Linked DNA regions of Homo sapiens. The protein of the gene in region 2 purifies or fractionates together with the protein of the main gene of each other region. This does not show direct contact. Each region holds a gene or a part of one and is shown on either strand. Other genes may lie near its edges.

Evidence for each region.
Region 1: the proteins of YBX2 (region 2) and DDX55 purify together in Homo sapiens (co-immunoprecipitation; 2 studies listed by BioGRID and IntAct, with this or other methods). This does not show direct contact.
Region 3: the proteins of YBX2 (region 2) and TRUB2 purify together in Homo sapiens (co-immunoprecipitation; 2 studies listed by BioGRID and IntAct, with this or other methods). This does not show direct contact.
Region 4: the proteins of YBX2 (region 2) and MTERF3 purify together in Homo sapiens (co-immunoprecipitation; 2 studies listed by BioGRID and IntAct, with this or other methods). This does not show direct contact.

The regions. Positions count from the first base shown.
Region 1 is NC_000012.12:123,608,599-123,612,098, reverse strand, and holds part of DDX55 (ATP-dependent RNA helicase DDX55), read right to left. Parts: intron 3,420-3,500; coding exon 3,270-3,419; intron 2,161-3,269; coding exon 1,971-2,160; intron 1-1,970. UniProt on the Homo sapiens protein: Probable ATP-binding RNA helicase. Has ATPase activity and is involved in the maturation of precursor large subunit rRNAs.
Region 2 is NC_000017.11:7,291,840-7,295,881, forward strand, and holds the start of YBX2 (Y-box-binding protein 2), read right to left. Parts: upstream 2,801-4,042; 5' UTR 2,662-2,800; coding exon 2,391-2,661; intron 1,700-2,390; coding exon 1,636-1,699; intron 221-1,635; coding exon 187-220; intron 1-186. UniProt on the Homo sapiens protein: Major constituent of messenger ribonucleoprotein particles (mRNPs). Involved in the regulation of the stability and/or translation of germ cell mRNAs. Binds to Y-box consensus promoter element.
Region 3 is NC_000009.12:128,308,948-128,312,447, forward strand, and holds part of TRUB2 (pseudouridylate synthase TRUB2, mitochondrial), read right to left. Parts: intron 2,655-3,500; coding exon 2,582-2,654; intron 2,077-2,581; coding exon 1,940-2,076; intron 929-1,939; coding exon 603-928; 3' UTR 1-602. UniProt on the Homo sapiens protein: Minor enzyme contributing to the isomerization of uridine to pseudouridine (pseudouridylation) of specific mitochondrial mRNAs (mt-mRNAs) such as COXI and COXIII mt-mRNAs.
Region 4 is NC_000008.11:96,238,902-96,241,756, reverse strand, and holds the end of MTERF3 (transcription termination factor 3, mitochondrial isoform 1 precursor), read left to right. Parts: intron 1-1,901; coding exon of another isoform or gene 1,902-1,928; exon of another isoform or gene 1,929-1,963; intron 1,964-2,071; coding exon 2,072-2,266; 3' UTR 2,267-2,355; downstream 2,356-2,855.

The sequences.
Region 1 (3,500 bases), on a different chromosome or scaffold from region 2:
CTTCAGATTTTGGAGGATTTTGGATTTTGGAATTTCAAGTTAGGAATGCTCAACCCATACTTATTGTGTACTAAGCACTATCATGAACATTTTTGCATGGATTAATTAATTAATCCTGCAGCAACCCTACGAAGCTGTATACTACTGTGGCCCCCATTTGACAAGTAAGGACCTCTAAGTTCATCGGTTAAATCTGGTAGGGGCCAAAGCCAAGATATGCACCAGGCAGTCCTGCTCTAGCGCCCATGCTCTCCACACTACCCTATGCAGAGTCCTTCCCTCTGCTTGGGAAGAGCTAGCCTCCTCCCTCACCCAGTCCAGCTTGTCAGAAACATCAATGGCAACTACAACTCCCACTTCTGATGAGCCTATCTGATTTTGACAACACTCTCCAGTTACACTAGGTGCAGTTTCTCATTTGCAAACTCATTCTACCTTTAATCTGCCTACAAATTGACACAAACCGGAGAGCAGCCTCGACAACCTCACAGTCTGCAGCAATAGGAACATTCTGGTTTCGAGACCAGCCTCCTTCATTTTGAACAGCAGACATGTTCAGGAGCTAGGGAACCCCTCCAGGCCTAACGAAAAATTTAACCTGAGAAAGCTTATTGCAAAAGAGAAAGAAAAGCCCCAGCCCCGGGCTGGTGGGCCAGTGTACCGTCAGCAGTGGCACTGGCCTGTGGGTGCCTCCTCGCCCTGATGGTGCTGCCTCCCCTGCAGCCTGTGCTCTCTACATTTGTGCCTCCTGGCCCATCCCAGCAATGGGACAGAACAGAACAGGGGTGAGGAGTGGCCTCATTACTAAACAATCAAGTTGCCAAAAGCCCATCTACTTCTTTGTGAAGAAACTACAGAAGCCAGCAGCCAGTATTTACTACTAGAAATTCAGCATATTTGGGCCAGGCATGATGGCTCATTCTTGTAATCCCAGCACTTTGGGAGGCTGAGGCAGGAGGATCATGAGGTCAGGAGTTCAAGACCAGCCTGTCCAATGTGGTGAAACCCCACCTCTACTAAAGATACAAAAAATTAGCTGGGCATGGTGGCACATGCCTGTAATCCCAGCTACTCGGGAGACTGAGGCAGAAGAATTGCTTGAACCAGGAGGCAGAGGTTGCAGTGAGCCGAGATCGTGCCATTGCACTCCAGCCTGGGTGACAGGGTGAGACCCCGTCTCAAAACAAAAAAAAACAAACAAAAAAAAACGGCCGGGCGCGGTGGCTCACACCTGTAATCCCAGCACTTTGGGAGGCCGAGGCAGGTGGATCACCAGGTCAGGAGATGGAGACCATCCTGGCTAACAGGGCTAACAAAAAATTAGCCGGGCGTGGTGGCGGGCGCCTGTAGTCCCAGCTATTCGGGAGGCTGAGGCAGGAGAATGGCATGAACCCAGGAGGCGGAGCTTGCAGTGAGCTGAGATCGCGCCACTGCACTCCAGCCTGGGCGACAGAGCCAGACTCTGTCTCAAAAAAAAAAAAAAAAAAAAAAAAGAAACTCAGCATATTTGATGCAGGTCAAAAATACACAACATTTACGGAGCAGAACATTTCCACCCCACAAAGTCTCCTTAGGAGTGAGTCTGTCATTTGATTTTCTGTGTTCCACCTGCACATCTAACTATGCCCTTCTCTGTCAGACAGGCTGTTCTGACGGGCCCAGGAACTACAGAGCTTAGTCATGGCTGCACCCAGCACACCCCAAGCATGTACAATAGAAACATTTGGTCACTTGAGGGTAGGAGGTTCAGAGACTCTGTCCTTAGAGACTGTGCTTAAAATACATTTATGTCCAATTTAACTTATTCATTCAATGAGTAGGACCACTCAGGCCATTTGCCCTAGCTAGCTCTGTCCCCAAATGCATTTCATAGGTGCTACAGGGTCTCACATATTTATTCTACCAGTACAATTTCCATAAAATGAGCACTGGTCATTATCGCTGAGTAAGAAGCAAGCCCAGGCGCTTACCATGTAGTAGTTTTCCAGGCGGGAGGGGGTCTTCTGGGCACTGCTGGCTGCCACGCCCTTCTCCTTCACTGAGACCCGGACAGGGTTCCGGAGGCCCGCTCTCACCAGGTTCTCCACTTCCTGCGTCTGAGTGGCAGAGAAAAGGCCTGTTCTCCTCTGCTTTGGCAAAAACTCCAGAATGGTGTTGATGCTGATAAAAAGAGGGCTCACACTTAACCGCTCACTTGCCAGCAGAATCAACACACAGTGCTTCACGATACTAAACAGGTATTCAAAAAGACTGAAAGTGAAGCCATCAAAATATTTATAGCACATACACTGGGAGGTGAGATTATAGGTGATTCTTTGTTTCTTCTTTATACTTTCATTTTTCCAAGGTTCCTCAAATTTTAGCATACAATTATAATGATATGTGAATTATATCCCATAAAGCTGTTTATTAAAAAACAACAAAACTGCCAGGTGTGATGGCTCATGCTTGTAATCCCAGCACTTCGGGAGACTGGGATGGGAAGATCTCTTGAGCCCAGGAGTTTGAGACCAACCTGGGCAACATAATGGGATCTTGTCTCTGCCAAAAATTAAAAAAAAAAAGCATGATGGCATGTGCCTGTAGTCCCAGATGACTCAGGAGGCTGAGGTGGGAGGATCACTTAAGCCCAGGAAGTAAAGGTCGCAATGACCCGAAATCATGCCACTGCATTCTAGCCTGGATGACAGAGTGAGACCCTGTCTCAAAAAAAAAAAAAAAAAAAAAACTTGAAGGAAAGTGCATTTTAAGATCAAAGATAGAACTGGAATAAAATCACGTGGTAGAATTTGAAAGCTCAAACTACTTAATGATTTGAAATTAAAATGTGGTTAATAAAAATACTTAGGCCAGGCATGGTGGCTGGCACCTGTAATCCTAGCACTTTGGGTACCCTAGGTAGGAGGATCACTTAAGTCCAGGAGTTTGAGAACAGACTGGGCAACATGGCAAAACCTCATCTGCAAAAAATAAAAAAACCATCCAGGCATGGTGGTGTGCACCTGTAATCCCAGCTACCCGGGAGGCTGATGCAGGAGGATCATCTGAGCCCGAGAGGTTGAGGCTGCAGTGAACATAATCACACCACTGCACTCCAGCCTGGGTGACAGCACAAGACCCTGTCTCTAATAAACAAATAAATAAAAAATAAATAAAAATGAAAATAAAAAATAAAAATACCTAGTCATGAAACAGTAAACTCCATTTTGCTCCCCTTTTGTATTAGTATCATCTGCCCACTCAAGCCAGTGAAGTCCAAAGTCCAGTACCTTGCCTCAAACCCCATGTCCAGAAGTCTGTCTGCCTCATCCAACACCAGGACATCCAGGGATCGCACACAGCTGGCCAGATCCAAGCCTTCGGCCTTCCTCCGGAACATGTCCTCCAAGCGGCCTGGAGTGGCCACAATGATGTTCCCACTTTGGAAAGAAAGTTAACATTTACCAAACTCTCTGGATCTTGGGAATGTGGTTGATGATTACCAAAATACCAAGTTTTAT
Region 2 (4,042 bases):
AATTCTGACGGACGTTTAGTAACCCAGCACAAGTGCGGCTAATGGTGGTTGACACAGGCACCCAAGGCGGATGGGCCGTTGTGAAGAAGAGCCAGAGAAACATGGCGGAGCGCACTGCTAAGGATTACAGCAAAGGCCTTCAAAGACGGCCGGTTCTTCCCCTCAGAAAGCTAACCTAGCTCTTACCTGGTGAACAAAGACATCTTCCTTGGTGTCATTCCTGCAGAACAGGATGGGTCGTTAAGGAAGGGACTTCAACAAAGCCCTCAGCTCCTCACTGAGGTCCCCCTAGATGCCCAGTCTAAGCTCAGTGGGCCCATCCTCTCCAGCATTCCAGTTAGGGGTGGACATGGCCTGGGGAATGGGAGGGAGAGCCAGCAGGGCCCCCAGAAGCTGGTGTAAAGAGAGATACACCTAAAACCTCAGTGCCAAACCTGGACTTCACAAGGAAAGGGCAGGCTGGGGAGGCAAAGGCACCTTGAGGAACCTCAGACAGCTCTGCCCCTGCCGGGACTCCACCTTCCACCCCAGGCTAGCCTTACAACCTGCCAGCGCTGGGTGCAACTGTCCCTGGCCAACACCCCCTCCCCCAACCCCCATCAGGGTTGGAAAATTCCAGTCTTCTTCCTTCTATAGTCAAGGAGGCAGAAAGTGCAGATGGGGCCAGAGGGGCAGAACAAGTTTGAGAAGGGAACAATGTGTCAGGAACTTGCTCTAAACAGCTGCCAAACTTTATTCTCATCCTCAGCCTGGAGGTGAATCCCAGAGTCAGGACCACTCTCAACACGCGTGGGACCAAGGGTGAGAGAGAAGAAAACATTCACCCATTCTCTATCATAAGAACCCCAGTGGGTGGGGGGAGGGGAGAAAGGAAAAGTTTTCCTGGAGGCACTCTGCCCCCGACCCAGTCTGCCATTTCCAGAATTAGACAGGGACCCTTCCCCAGAACAAACGTTTTAGCTTTAAAGCACTTGGATCTGCACAAAGGTCAGCCTGCTAAGAGGGAACTAGGGCCTCCCAGGAGAGCCAGGCCGGGCAGGATGCCTGGGCTGGGGAAGGGCCCACTGGGGGAGACCTGGCTCTGCTCAGAATCCACTGCCACAGCCTCTCCCGGTGCTGAGGGGTGGGGCTGCCTACTGAAGGAAAGCAGCAGCCTCTGGCTCCTTCCTCCTGACCCCCACTGTCAGCCTCAGTCCCAACAGGTGGAGGGCTCGAATGAGCCACAGCTCTTTAAGGGAGTTGAGTTGTGAGTGCTGCCATAACAGGAAATCAGTTGAGGATTCCAGCCGGGGGCCCTGAGGCACAGAGAACCCTATAATACATTCTGCCCCAAAGGCATGTCAGAGTAAAAGTAATGAAGCAATTCCAGAAGGTGAGATGAGAAGCTGGCAGGGTCAGAGCCAGGTTTGCCAAGTTCCTGAATCATTAATCCTCCGCTACCCTTGAAGATGCGGAGGAGGCTTCCTCTTGTCACGAAGCACACATTTGTGCTGCGGTTAAAGGCTTTCAACCAGCATCAGCTGGACATTGCAACCATGTGCCTCCGCAGGGGTCGATGAGGTTGGGCGGGTGTCCAGTCCCACAGGCCAGCTGGGAAGACACCCATTCCACCCCCGCCCTGGGTTCCTTGGATACCTGTTGATGAATCCGTAACCATTCCGGACGTTGAACCATTTGACAGTGCCCAGGACTTGGATTGCTGCCAGGCAGAGATGCAGTGGGGACAGTGAGATGGGGGGAAGAGATGGAGTTGAACTCAGTTTTGAGACACTCCAAAACAAAAAAAAATCTAGCCTACTGCCTTATTACCTATTCAGGTTACCTTCAAGCCAACCAGGTTTCACTAGTAGCTTCAAGGTATTCCTACCCTAGTCCACCAAATGAAATCACCCACACAGGGACTCAGGCTTTCAAAAAGCCTTCCAACTCTAAGTCACGTTCCCCACATCCTACAAATCCAGCCCCTTCACCTAGAACTGGGTACTCACCTGGTCTGCAAAGTGCCGCCCCCAGGTCATAACTGAGGGTTTTTCTAGCCCTCCCAATGCAAGGGTCCCCAGTGCACCTGCTTGCCAGGCTCAGAGGTTTGCCTAGTTCTAACCCAGTCAACTAGGCACTGTGTCCCGCCCGGGGGCGTGGCCGGACCCTGGGGCTTTATTCTCCACCCCAAGACCTTAGCTGAACCTGCCGGCCCCGCCCTCTCTCCCAGGAAGGTACGGCAGGATTTCCCACCAGGGGAATCCACTTTGGTGCGCAGCTCCCAGCCCAGTTAGCGCTCTGGGCCTGCGGGCCAGGCCGCCTTTGGTTTTCCGGATCCTGCCGGGCTCCACACTGCCCCTCCCCCAGCCCGCCGACCCCTCAGAGCCGCCCTGTGCGCGCCTGCCCCTCACCCAGCACCGGCTTGTCCGCCTGACTCCGGGCCGGGGGGGCGGGGGTTCCCGAGACCGCCGTCGCCGGATTGCCAGGGGTGCGGGAGCCCGGCGCCGAGGGGGTCCCAGCAGCGGGGCCCGAGGCGGCTCCGCCCCCGCCGCCCGCCCCGCCGCCTTTCTGCGGCTCCCCTGCGGGCACCGGTACCACCACCGCTACCACCCCTGCCGCCGTCGCGGGCACCGTCGCCGCGGGGACCGCTGTAGCCCCCGCTGCCGCCTCCACCTCGCTCATCCCGCCGGGTCCAGTACCGGCCACAGCCGCCACCGCCCCGGCCCCTCCCCCCGGCTCGCGAACCCACCGCCCTGCTCGGTCCTCGCGCCCCGAGCCTCGCCCACACGCCGGCAGCGGGCCCGGAGCCGAGGCCAATGGCAGCCCGCTGCCGCCGCTCGCGCAGACCCCGCCTCCCGACCACGGGCCAATCCCAGCCCAGCAGCACCCCCGGACCGCACGCCGACCCCGCCTCCCGGACTTCGCACCGCGGCCCCGGCCCCCGCCAGCCGCCCAGTAAGTACACCTGGGCCCCGCCCCCTGGCCGCCACGTGACGGCCCCCGGCCCAACCCATTGGCCGGCGGCCCCTTTCCCCTCCCCCCTCCGCCCCTTTCCACCGGCCGCGGGAAATCAAACGGGCCGGTCGCGCCCCAACCGCCACCTGGCCTCTGCGGGAAGGGCGGGGCCGGGGCCGCAGTGCCAAGGTTGCCCCTAACGACCTGAGCGAGGGGCGGGAATCTGCAGCCTCGGTTCTGGCAGTGAGTAGCACCGCTCGCCTCCACCCTCGAGACCGACCTTGCCCGTATGCTGCCAGGTGCAGACGCCTTCCGGCCACCACCGCCCTTGGCACCCTCTCCCCACAGGACGGCCCTGCACACCCTGGGGCTGCGGGATCCAACCGCAGGATAGGCTGGAAAGCGCAGCAGAATGGTTTTCCCGGCTCACACTTGCTCCCATGAGCCAGGACCCCCTACTTTTCTTTTTTCTTTCTTTTTCTTTTCTTTTCTTTTTTTTTTTTTTTTTGAGACAGGGTCTCGCCCTGTCGCCCAGACTAGAGTGCAGTGGCGCGATCTCGGCTCGCTACAACCTCCGCCTCCCTGGTTCAAGCGATTCTCCTGCCTTGAGCCACCTCAAGGTGGCTCCCGGCCTGCCCCTACCTATGTTTGTATTGGAAACAAGGTTTACAAGTAGTACAATGCGCAATTCTTCTTCGCTGAGTTTGTTTGTTTGTTTGTTTTGACACAAGGTCTCCCTCTGTCGCCCGGGCTGGAGCGCAGTGCGCGATCTGGGCTCACTGCAGCCTCTGCCTCCCGGGTTCAAGCGATTCTCCCTCCTCAGCCTCCTGAGTACCTGGAATTACAGGCTTGCGCCACCACAACCTGGCTAATTTCTGTATTTTTAGTAGAGATGGGGTTTCACCATATTGGCCAGGCTGGTCTCGAACTCCTGACCTCTGGTGATCCGCCCGCCTCAGCCTCCCAAAGTGTTGGGATGACAGGGTAAGCCACCGTGCCCGGCCTTCGCTGAGTTTTGATCAATGTGTCCACCCATGTGGCCCATACCGACCGCTGCAGCTCTGATGTCTACCGCCCTAGACTGGCTTTGGGGTCTCTCACGTCTGTA
Region 3 (3,500 bases), on a different chromosome or scaffold from region 2:
AGGTTGAGTGTCATTTCTGGCTTACTAGCCATTTGGATTTCTTCTGATACACACTTCATCTCATTTGCCTAATTTTGTCGTTGTCTTCTTATTGCTTTCTAAGGGCTCTCTGTATACTATGGATATTAGTCCTTGGTTAATGACACTGCAAATACTTACAATTTTTTTTAATTTTTAATTTTCGTGGGCACATAGTTTATTGAGAATTTTTTTTTTTTTGAGATGGCAGGGGTCTCATATGTTCCCCAGACTAGAGTGCAGTGGCTATTCACAGGCGCCGTCTAGCGCACTACAACCTTAAACTCCTGGGCTCAAGCAATTCTCCTGCCTCAGCCTTGGGAGTAGCTGGGATTACAAGTGCCCGCCACCACGCCTGGTCTGCCAATACTTTCTATCAGTCTGTCATGTTTACTGTCTTTTCCTCCATACAGAAGTTTTTCCTTCTCAGTTGGGTCAAGTCCATTGACCTTTCTGTTACAGCTTGAGTTTTGTGTCTTACGTAGAAAAGGTGCCCCTGCTCTCACTTTCTGCACAGCTATCAGGTCCAGCTCATAGCAGTTCTTCTATTTATCCATCCACTGCCCCAGGAGCTGCCTGGGCATTCACTGCCCCGCACCCCTCTCCAGCCCCAAGGTAGAGCTCGGGCCCTGGGAGTCCCAGGACCATCCCGGACTGGGGAGCTGCTTGGTGTCCAGCCCCGGGCTCAAGCTCTTCTCCAGCTCTGCAGCTACCTGAGGGGTAGCAGCCCGGATAGCATCCTGGATGTTGGTTAGGTCCCACTGGGTCCTCAGGAGGGCACTGTCTAGCGTGAAGAAGCCGTCGCGCGTGCGCCGCACTTGGGTGCAGACAGCAGTGGTCTTTAGTTCCAGGCCGATTTCATGAACCAACTTCCGCAGCTCTTTCTGCGTCTCATGCATGCACTGCACCTCTGCCAGGGACACACAATGACAGACATGGTGGTGAGAGCACAGCCTCTAGTGTGTGGTTGTGAACGCACACCCCTTGGATACCTCCTAGGTGTGTAACAACCTTAGCAAGACCCCTAAGCTCTCCAGGTTGTGCTATTCAGAGGACCTGCCCTGTGGGTGCCACCTGAAATGTGTTAAGACTTGCAGAACCTCAGGCCCCACCGGGACCTGCCAAGTCAGAATCTGCCCTTTTTTGGCAACAGGGTCTCATTCCATCACCCAGGCTGGAGTGCAGTGGTGTGATAACAGATCACTGCAGCCTTGACCTCCTAGGCTCACATGATCCACCTGCCTCAGCCTCCGGAGTAGCTGGGACGTTCTGAGCCATCACAACTGGCTAATTTTTTATTTTTTGTAGAGACAGGGTCTCGCCATCTTGCCCAGGTTAGAACCTGCCTTTTACTAAGACTCGGTTTCCCTATCTGTAAAATGGGAGTTATGAGGAGTAAAAGAAATCATTTATAGAAAGATAAATGATTATCTTTAAAATGTTATTAAGATGTTATCTTAATAACAGAGTTCTGTGCTCAAGCAGAGGAGCAGGCATTAACATGACCAACAGAAAAAAGGGGCGGGCGCAGGCAGAGACAAAAGGAACACAGATAAGAGGGGCCTGAGCTGGGTGGGACTGGGGACGTAAGAGTTGTGTCTGATGGAGCCCTCACAGCTTCAAACATGGGCAGCTCTGGAAATAAGCCACTAAATATAACCTTTGCTTGGTAAGGTCTGGCTTCCAAGGGTGACTTGGCAAGAGATAGGAGAGCTTTTGTTCTGCGAGCTCTGTCATCAGCCAAGTCCAGGCCAGGGCTGGGAAGGAAGTCGGCACCTGATGCCTTGGCCCGCAGAGATCAGGGCCGGCGTGTGCTGGCCTCAGCTGAGCCAGACAACAGTGACCTCTGCAAGAGCGTTCCTGAGTGACTCCCAAACCTACGGGTCCCATCTCACTGCTCCAACTTCCTTGGCCAACCTACCTAAGAGGAATTCCGGAGGTGCAAAGTAGAGGCATCGGATGCCAGTTATCAGCATCGGGGACTTGTTCATGGGCCGGATCAGGCCTCTCACGGCCATCTCATAGGCCTCCTGGGTCTTCAGGTCGAGGTTGGAGTACCTGCAGATCAGGAAGGGGGCTGCAGCTGGGTGGCCCACCTACCCTTTCCCCCACATGAGGTGCCTCTCTGGAAGCTCCTCACTTGCTTTGTGTGCCCTGCCACCGTGGCTCCTCCAGCCACCTTTCCTGCCCTCCTTCATCACCAGGTGCCTGGTAGAGTCAGGAAACCCAGGCAAGCTGGCTCCAGAGCCCAAGCTCTTAACTCCTTGGCTGCTCTTGCCCTTGGGCTCTGTGCTCCAATGATGTGGTCCCTGGTTTCCTTGCCATTAGATCATATACTCTCAGCAGGACAGCTTGGTTCTCTTGCTCTTCTTGGCCTCCCGTTGGCCAACCCAAGACCTGGCACACAGAACCATTTCTTAATGCCAAGAAAGAAACAGGTAGCTCCCGTCTGGTTCTGGGCTCTAAAAACAAGATCCATGGAATCTGCCCCAGGTTTGGGGGAGCCTACGGGAGCCAAGGGCACTTACTGCTCTCCCAGTACCTCCCTGAGGGCCCTACTCACATCACCAGGGCCTTCTGATGGGAGCCTTGGATAACGGCCAGAATGCGGTCCAGCTTCTCTCTGGTCACGTGGTCTGGAAAAGGCAGGGGGTTGTCAATGTACAGGTACCTGCTGAGTATTGGTCACAGCAAACTCCTTCCCCCCAGGCCAGCCCCATCCCTGGAACATGGAGAGAGGATGTTTTGGAGGGATCCCCATGGCGGGGTGGTTGGGAGTCCTTTGAGATTCTCATGAAAGCACTGGACCTCAGAAAGATACTGGATCTCAGAAAGATACACATGACTCAGCAGCAAGGGCACTCTATTTTTTTTTTTTTTTTTTTTTTGAGACGGAGTCTCGCTCTGTCACCCAGACTGGAGTGCAGTGGCGCAATCTTGGCTCACTGCAAGCTCCGCCTCCCAGGTTCATGCCATTCTCCTGCCTCAGCCTCTCGAGTAGCTGGGACTACAGGCGCCCACCACCACGTCCGGCTAATTTTTTAAATTTTTAGTAGCAAGGGGGTTTCACCGTGTTAGCCAGGATGGTCTCGATCTCCTGACCTCGTGATCCGCCCGCCTCGGCCTCCCAAAGTGCTGAGATTACAGGTGTGAGCCACTGCACCCAGACTTTTTTTTTTTTTTTTTTTTGAGACGGAGTCTTGTTCTGTTGCCCAGGCTGGAGTGCAAATGGCACAATCTCAGCTCACTACAAGCTCCGCCTCCTGGAGTCAAGCAATTCTCCTGCCTCAGCCTCCTGAAAAGCTAGGATTAAAGGTACACGCCAAGACACCCGGCTAGTTTTTGTATTTTTAGTAGAGACGGGGTTTCACCATGTTGGCCAGGCTGGTCTCGAACTCCTGACATCAGGCAATCCACCTGCCTTGGCCTCCCAAAGTGCTGGGATTACAGGCGTGAGCCACCGAACCTGGCCTTTTTTTTTT
Region 4 (2,855 bases), on a different chromosome or scaffold from region 2:
TAATATGTCATTAATAGGATGAAATTTTTGTGCCAATGGCAAAGTAGCCCCTGGTGGCCAACAACTCTCCCCCCACACCACCACATCCATAAAAAAAGAAGGGAGAAACACCGCAATCTGAGCAGTAGCTTTTGGACTTGAAAGAGTACACAACTCTCTAATGATGGAGTAACTTTGGTCCACTGGAGAAGTAAACGTATAATATCTGCTCATAAGCTAAATAAATGCTTTGAAGTGTTATTATATTTAGGAAATTAGTAATCGTTTAGGAGCACCAGAACCATTTGTGGTTTTGTCTGTTGTTGGGTGATAGTTTTTTTTTGTTTTTTGTTTTTTTTGTTTTTTTTTGCGATGGAGTCTGGCTCTGTCGCCAGGCTGGAGTGCAGTGGCGTGATCTCGGCTCAGTGCAACCGCCGCCTCCCGGGTTCAAGTGATTCTTCTGACTCAGCCTCCTGAGTAGCTGGGACTACAAGCGCCTGCCACCATGCCCAGCTAATTTTTGTGTTTTTAGTAGAGACGAGGTTTCACCATGTTGGCCAGGATGGTCTCAAACTCTTGACTTCGTGATCCGCCCACCTTGGCCTCCCAAAGTGCTGGGATTACAGGTGTGAGCCACCGCGCCCGGCCGGGTGATAGTTTTTTAAGCCAAGAATCACTGCATAGGAGTCATACTTCTAAAAAAAAATCTATCTAAAACCTCTTACATCTTCGTTATCCATAATATTGTGATCATGGGAATTTAGTTATCAGAACAAGGGCAGAATAGCAGAGACTGAGAAGGGAGATGTTCTGTTCCAAAAGCAAGCCAAACCCATGTTGAGGTACACCCTGTGCTTTTTTTAGTCACTCTTCTCATAGTACTTTGGTTTTCAACAATTGCTTTTCATAGTGTCCTTTCCAACTGATCTGTTACTGTTTCCACTTGAATATAGGGAAAGAGGCCTAGGGGTTATGTGAACGCATCCCGTGTTCACATTATATCTGTAACAGCCAAGAGGAGAGCTTGAGGCAGGCATAATATTGAAAGGGCTTCCTCTGAGCCTCATCGGGGAACCTCACAGGTCTCTCAGGCTTCAGGGCTGTAGCTCAAGTCTGGCCGGATCTCCCATTTGTCTCTTCTTTCTGTAGCTGGCTGTAGAGCCTTGCCTGCTTCTGACTCCTTTCTAAAGTTGCTGCCGCTTACTCTAGTTTTTAGGAGTTTTACTTTGAGGCAGGTAAGACATACTTTCCCTAGTTGCTCTCCCAGAGGTCAGATTCATTTCATTTTGATTCTAGTTAAGGGGAGGAGTGCAAATTTTAAAAAAGGGAGAGAGAGAGGTGTTACAGATTATGAAATCTTATACATTTTTATATAATAACATCTTAATCTCTAACATTGGTTCTCAAACTTGGTAGATATCAGAATCATCTAGAGGGCTTGTTAAGACAGATTTCTGGGTTCTGCTCTCAAAGTTGCTGATTAAGTAGTTTTGGGGTGAGGCTTGAGGATTTGCCTTTTTTTTTTTTTTTGAGATGGAGTCTTACTCTGTTGCCCAGGCTGGAGTGCAGTGGCGCGATCTCGGCTCACTGCAACCTCCGTCTCCTGGGTTCAACCAATTCTCCTGCCTCAGCCTCCTGAGTAGCTGGGATTACAGGCATGCGCCACCACGCCCAGCTAATTTTTGTATGTTTAGTAGAGACAGGGTTTTGCCATGTTGGCCAGGCTTGTCTTGAATTCCTGACCTCAGATGATCCGCCTGCCTCAGCCTCACTAAAGGCGTGAGCCACCACGCCCGGCCGAAGATTTGCTTTTTTAACACATTCTCCTCTGTCTCTGGAGCACTCAATCTTCTTTGCACACAGTATAGCCCTGAATTATTTTATTATTGTTTTGTATGTTGATTTTGAATCCCTTTTTCTAGTTTCTTCACAGAAAATATAGGATTTAAATCCTCTGGCATTTATCCTACTTACTGAACACATGGTCAGTACTTGGTATTGGTTAACCTATTAAAATTTTTGCCAAGTAAACTTTTTAATATTTCATCCTCCCGTGTGCAGTGTTTTTTAAAAACTTTTTTTTCTTTTCTAGGTATTTAATACAAGGCTGTTTAAGGTCAAAGAAAGACACTTGTTTCTTACCTATTTAGGAAGAGCACAGTATGATCCAGCAAAACCTAACTACATCTCTTTGGACAAACTAGTATCTATTCCTGATGAAATATTTTGTGAAGAGATTGCCAAAGCATCAGTACAGGACTTTGAAAAATTCTTAAAAACGCTTTAGATTTTTATGTATGTTAAAATGCAGTATTGTAAAGTGAATATATATATGAATAAATGAATATATTTTTAAATGCCTCGGGTCTCAACTGATATTGGAAACCATTTGATACTGTAAATTTGGGTACATATACTGTGGTAGAACTTTCATCAAGTTCCTAGTGACTTAATTCTTGTTTGACTTTTTCCTTCCTTCTTAGGAAATACAGCAAGCTCAGAGAAGGGGAAAGAGTTGGTTTACTTTAAGTTGGTGCTTTGTCATTCTCGTGAAGATGAAAACAGTGGAGGATTTTTAAAGTGGTTTCATTATAAAATGGCTTTATTTCCTTTGAACTGTTACGAGTTTCCAGAGCATACTACATTAGTCATCTAATATCTACTGCTCAGATAATGCTACAAAACACACTTCATTTTGGATTATCTACATTGTTAACTTCTTGAACACAGATATTCACAGTTGGCTAAGAATAAGGAAAAGGAAAGTGGAGTTTAAAGATTAGGGGCAATGAGATATAGTGAAAGGCTTAACTAGCCTTTGACTTATTACCAGTAAACAAATATTTGTTTTCCATTTACAACATGTGTTATCCTGG